2 separate regions of the Homo sapiens genome follow, and region 1 is linked to region 2. Evidence: fine-mapped expression QTL. A gene starts in region 2. The other region holds a variant in brackets. All regions are shown on one strand. Distances are from middle to middle.

Region 1 (2,896 bases), 31 kb before region 2:
GAAGGGGTTGGGGGCTCCTAGTATGCCCATCCCTCCCCGATCCTGGCTTCTCTTCGCTCCTCCTTTCCATTGCCCTTCCCCAAGCAGCTGGCTCAATCAGCGCTCAGAATAACCCCCCCACTCCGCCCCAAAATAACCCACAGCTGTGGCCTGGCCCCCGCGGGGTTAACACTCACGCTCCCCTCCATTCCCAGTGGCTGCTCACCCTCCAGCCCCTCCTCTGCCTCTCCCAGACCCACCCCTACCTGGCTTCTGCTCTTAGGGACCCCGCGTCCCACTCCCTACTGAGGCCCAGGAGGGCAGCCCCCGGCCCCACCCTTCTCACGGGGGCTGCATGCTCAGTTCCTAACCACAGGGATTAGGGAGAGCAGCCTCCCCCACTCCAGGGCCTGAGGAGGGGCATCCCCAGTCCTCCAGGACTCTGAAGGCCCAACCCCCAGAACCCACGCCCTCAGGGATCACAGAGTCCAGCCTCTGGACAACCCCCCGCTCCCCCCGCCTCCATCTCTACCTCCTCATGAGCCTCCGTTTCCACTTCCATCTGCATAGGGCTAAAGTCCCCAACACTCATCTCCTGCCCTGTCAGGGACTCAGGAGACTGAGCTCCCAGCCTGCCTTCCTCAGACGGAAGCGCTATCCCCTACCTCCTCCCGTAAAGACCCAGGAGTCCTTCTGGCAGCCCCTTCCTCCCCCAGGCCTTGGGAGTCTGGGCATTCGGTCCTGTTCTTTCCCAGGACCCAGGAGGCCAGGCCCCTCCTGCCCCAAGACTCTGGAACTCCAGTGCCCAGCCTCCTCTCCCTGCAGGAACCAAGAGTCCAGGTCCCCAGCTCCCCTCTTCCCCCAAGGACCCAGGAGTCCGGGTTCCGGCTCCTGTCCTCCCTTAAGGATCCCCTTTTGGTTTCAAACCCTATCCTTCCCAACATCCTGGGTGCCCCCCCACCGAGCTCTGGCCTCCCTAGTCACCCCACTTAGATCCTGTACATAGCACAGCCTGTCCCCAAGCGGGGAGGAGGAGGAGGGTGCCAGAAATTCCTAGGGTGTCCCTGTCTTCATTGCCCCCCACAGCATCCAACAGAGAAGAGAGGAGCGGCCACTTCGATCAACAGCTCCCCCCACAACCTCGAGTTGTGCTGCAGACGGCATCCCGTTTCCTCCCCCCTCACCTCCCAACACACACACACAACATCGGTCTCTCCCCACCCGAATCCTGATGCTTGGAAGAGGCTGGAAGGGTGTTCCAGAACCTTGAGGAAGGGGTGGGAGCTTGGGGCGAGGGGTGCTGGGGGCCTGGATGCCCTCAAGGTCCTTGGCGGGGGTATTAATAGCAGACTCATAGCTCTGACATGGGAGGGGAGAGCGAGAGGAGAGAGGGAGAGGACC[G/A]GCTCGCGATGGGGGGACTGATGCAGGGAGGGGGGTACAGGGAGAAGGTGAGATAGAGAGATGGAGGCACAGGGATATGGGGCATCAGGTATGTGGGGATGGGGAGAGGGAGCCAAGTGTCAGAGAAATGGGGGCGTGAAAGGTCTGAGGTGTAGGGACTCAGGAAAAAGGGGCTCAGAGAGGGAGAGAGAGAGGGTGGAGGAGAGTCCCTGAGGGACAGGGGAGCTAGGTGGGGGTCAAGACCCCTGCCCACCGTTCAAACCCCCTCCCTCCACGAGGCTTCTTGCCAACTTCCTCTGTCCTAGATTTGGGGGTCCACATTCCCACCACCATCCCTGCATCCCCTGTCCCCGCCTTACCTTTTCATGACCCTGTTCTGTTGGGGGGATGGCGGGGGGGCCAGGACCGGAACCCGGCGTCCAGCGACCCCAAGATTCCGAGGAGGGCTCAGAGAGCCGATGTCGGGGGGCAGGCCCCGGGGCGGCGGCAGTGGTGGTGGCGGCAGCAGCGGCAGCCCGGACCTCCTGTCTGTCCCTGGCTCCGTCTCTCCTTCCTCTTCCTTGGTCCTGTCCTGCCCTGTCTCTCCCCCAAGGTTGCGGCCACCTGGACTAGGCGAGGACGTGGCTACACATGTTGCTCTGGAAGTTGGGCCCCGGACATTGCAGAGGCTGTCGGGGTGTCCTCTTGCCGCCCCGACCCCGTGGGGATCCCCCCTCCGCCCACCCGGGGTGCCCCCCTCTGCCGCTTCAGCCCCGGCTCCTCCCCCCTTTCCATGTGTCCAGTCCCGCCTCTCCCTGGCTCACTCGCACCCCCGCTTTGTGCCCTCAGCCCCCCCACCCCCCCTTCCAGCGTCTGTGTCTATCTGTCTGTCTGGGTCACCTCTGAAGCTAGTGGCTGGTGTGTGCGTGTGAGGAGCGGGAGATTGCCTGCTTGGGGAACTGCTTGCCCCTTCCTCGCTTGGCCACCTCTAGACCCCCCCTTGACTCCCCCACTCTCAAACACAGGCAGAAACACACATACACTCACGCACACACGCACGATCTCACTTCCCTGGGATTCCCCCTCAACACCCCCAGAGCTTGAGGAGGGACACACACACAGACACACACACACAGAGTGGGGGGTCTAATGGGGGCCAGGCTGCCACTGCTGATAGGGGCTGTTTGGACAGACAGGAGGACACAGGCAGCCGGGGACGCCCAGACGCCTGGCCGGACGCAGGCAGGAGGCACAGAACCCAGGTACACACCATCCATCTGGGTTTGGGGGGGCCGGGGGGAAGGAGCGGGAGCCCCACGACACCCAGGCAGGCAGCTCAGGGTCGGTACAGACAGACAGACCCCTCCCTCCCTCCGCCGCCGCAGCGCTTACAGACACACCCCCCCTCCACCAGCCAGCCCCAGACACCCGGACACACAGATCCTCACCGGGCAGATGGCAGACGCTCGAGAGACCCCTGGGGGCCGGGCCGACCTACCCAGGCAACACCCCCAGCAGGCACCGGTGGCCGAGGGAG
Region 2 (2,896 bases):
CCGTCCGGGGGCTTCAGGCCAGCCCTGGGCTTGGCTGCTGTGGGATGACACAGATGGGGGATGCCAGTCAGGGGCACGGGGTGGAAGGGCTGTTGGGGGCCCCAGGATTGGGGGACATGGGGTGGGGATGGGGGGGGTCCCCGGAATGGAGTTGTGTGGGGTGAGGGGACTGCTGAGCCTCTTAGGAGTCAGGGTGTGGGGTGAATGGGCTGTCAGGGGCCCCAGAAGTCGGGGACGTAGGATGGGGGTGCAGGTGGGTCCCAGGGAATGAGGTTGTGTGTGCTGAGGGGGCTTCTGTGGGCCCCAGGAGTGGGGGGCATAGGATGGGGGTGCTGGGGGTCCCAGGAATGGGGTTGTGTGGTGAGGGGGCTACTAGGGGTCCCAGAAGTGGGAGGCATAGGATGGGGGTTCTGGGGGGTCCCAGGAAAGGTGTTGTGTGGAGAGGGCTGCTAGGGGTCCCTGAAGTGGGGGACATAGGATGCGGGTGCTGGGGGTTCCCAGGAATGGGGTTGTGTGTGGTGAGGGAGCTTTCTGGGGGTCCCAGGAGAGGGGGGCATAGGATGGGGATACTAGGGGTCCCAGGCAAGGTGTCGTGTGGGGAGGGCTGCCAGGGGTCACAGAGGTGGAGGTGCAGGATGAGAGAGTCGCTAAGGGTCCCCTGGGTTGAGGTGTGGGTTAAGGGGGTCTATGGAGGATTCCAGAGAGGTGAGGGCCTGGGGTGAGGGTGATTCTGGGGGTCCCAGGAGTGGGGGACATAAGTGAAGGGGCTGCTTCAGGTTCCAGAAGTCAGGAATGTGGGCTGAGGGGGTTGTTGGGCGAGAGGGCTGTCAGGGATCCCAGAGGTGGAGTGCAGGGGAGGGCTGGGATATTTGGGGACCACGTCTTGTGACCCAGGAGCTGAAGGGCCTGCAGAGGGACTGGGTCCTTCTGTGAGAGGACACAGGTGGGACTTTCTGGGGACTAGGGGGTGCGGCCATTGAGATCAGAGCCCCTGGGAGGTCTGAAACCGAATAATCCCTTTCAGGTTTGGGGGTGACAGCACCCTTCGTGGAGAACCCAGGTATCTCAGGGCATATTTCAGGCTGTCCTTGTCACTTGGGGCCATTTCCCAGAATAAGGGCCTCCCTTTCGAATTCAGCTCCATTTTCACGGAAGTGCACCTCCTCAAGCTGGGAGTCGGGACCTCGGATTTGTGGGGAACCTCAGAATGAGGCCACGCCCCGGCACTGGGCTACCTTCTTAGAATCGCGGTCTCCCCTTTAAGGACCTGGAATGGCAGTGCTGAGGTTTGGGGGTGACGGCACCTGAGAAGGGGCCGCCCCTTCTCTGGAGGGCCAATCTGCGTCACCTGAGGGCCCGCCCTTCCTTTCGCCACCCCCACCCCTCCTGGTCCCTAGCGCCACCTCAGCCTTCTTTTGGTTCCGCTTTTTCCCGCCTTTTCGCTCCTCCACAGCTGATTGGCTGCGCCCAAGTCCCGCCCCCTCCCTCTTTCCGCCTACTCAGGAGCTGACACGAGCCGGGGCGTGGCCTCGGCGAACGTTGGACTGCGCGCCGTTGGCGGACTGCGCGCGGGAGCCCTACCCCGCCCCATCCCTCTAGGGAGTCTCGCGTCCACACCGCCCCTTCCCTTTGTAGCAAGCTGACAAGGAGACACTCCTGCGGCGCATGCGTCGCGCCCAAACGAGGCCGGCGGTGGAGAAAGGCAGGCAACGCATGCGTAGTTGATGTAGGGAGTCGGCGGTGAGAAATGGACAGCCCGCATTGACCGAAGCTTTGCGCATGCGTTTTACTGCTGGGTGAAGCCGAACCTCGGGAGCCCAGGACGCCCTCCTGCACATGCGCAGGAGGCTCAATGACAGTCGAGCTTTGGCTAAGGTGAGGGAGAAATCGGGGGATTGCATGGCCAGGGAGGGCGGCCCTGCACCCCCTAGGTAACCTTTACGAGCATTTCCTGCTCTCCTAAGATCTACCTCGCTGTCTAGACCCCAAAGAAACGTTGTACCACTACAGGGTCTCTGGGCCTGAAAAACGCCCCAGAACCTAAGACCTCTGACCCCTGTCTGGGACCCAGGCCAACTGAGCAGTGTGGGAAGGGGACAGGCAACAGGGGCTTTGAGGCGAGCGGATGGGCTCTGCGCCCTGCCTGGGGTAGAGACGGCTTCTGGAGGGTGGGACGTGGAGGTGGAGAGGGCGCTTTTCCTCTAGATGGCCTTTGACCCCTGCCCATTTTCCTCTGTTTAGGCTCCGGGGAAAGGGTCTAGCCATGCTGCATGTGACCCGGGGGGTCTGGGGGTCCAGGGTCCGAGTATGGCCACTGTTGCCCGCGCTCCTCGGGCCCCCCCGGGCCCTCTCATCGCTGGCAGCCAAAATGGGGGAGTATCGCAAGATGTGGAACCCCAGGGAGCCCCGCGACTGGGCCCAGCAGTACCGCGAGCGCTTCATTCCCTTCTCCAAGGAGCAGCTGCTCCGCCTCCTAATACAGGTACCGCCTGTCCCAGGCCCAAGAGCCTGGGGACTACGGCTCCCAGCAGGCTTCGCGGCGGCAGGGCCCTAGTTGCTGCAGAGAGCTGCCCTGGCGCCTCCTGGGAGTTGTAGTTCCCGGGTCCCTTCGTGTTTCCCTAGTGGGCGGGAGATGAGCTGGAATGCAGGAGCCAGGTCTCCGAGATGCAGACGCAGCATCCATTCCCAACTCTGGCTTGTTCTGAGGGCTTGAACAGGCACTCTCTGGGGCATGGTTTTTCCCTCTTTAAGATGGGTATAGTAATCATCCTCATCATTACTATTTCTACTACCTGATAATAATTGTACCTATAAAGTCACAACGCTGTAATCATAATTATTATCACACAATTTGAGCTCTGACTCCATGGCACTGTGCCAGACATTTTTCATGTAT

Evidence for each region. PIP is the estimated chance that this variant, and not a neighbour inherited with it, causes the effect.
Region 1: its variant is fine-mapped to the expression of TMEM143 in sun-exposed skin (GTEx, PIP 0.96).

Annotation. Positions count from the first base shown.
Region 1 is chr19:48,393,780-48,396,675 of GRCh38, reverse strand. GRIN2D (glutamate ionotropic receptor NMDA type subunit 2D) reads right to left here. Exons shown (of 14, transcript NM_000836.4): 1 at 2,808-2,896; 2 at 1,740-2,018. It also overlaps a transcript of KDELR1 not described here. Among named protein-coding and RNA genes, the nearest start is that of GRIN2D, 1.6 kb to the right of the region's middle. RefSeq lists a silencer at 437-620. The variant G/A (reference allele first, on the strand shown) is at 1,381.
Region 2 is chr19:48,362,877-48,365,772 of GRCh38, reverse strand. TMEM143 (transmembrane protein 143) reads left to right here and starts at 1,833. Exons shown (of 8, transcript NM_018273.4): 1 at 1,833-1,875; 2 at 2,242-2,482. The coding sequence starts at 1,853. SYNGR4 (synaptogyrin 4) reads right to left here and starts at 1,406. Exons shown (of 5, transcript NM_012451.4): 1 at 1,236-1,406; 2 at 1-37. RefSeq lists enhancers at 1,112-1,261, 1,632-1,751, 2,232-2,281.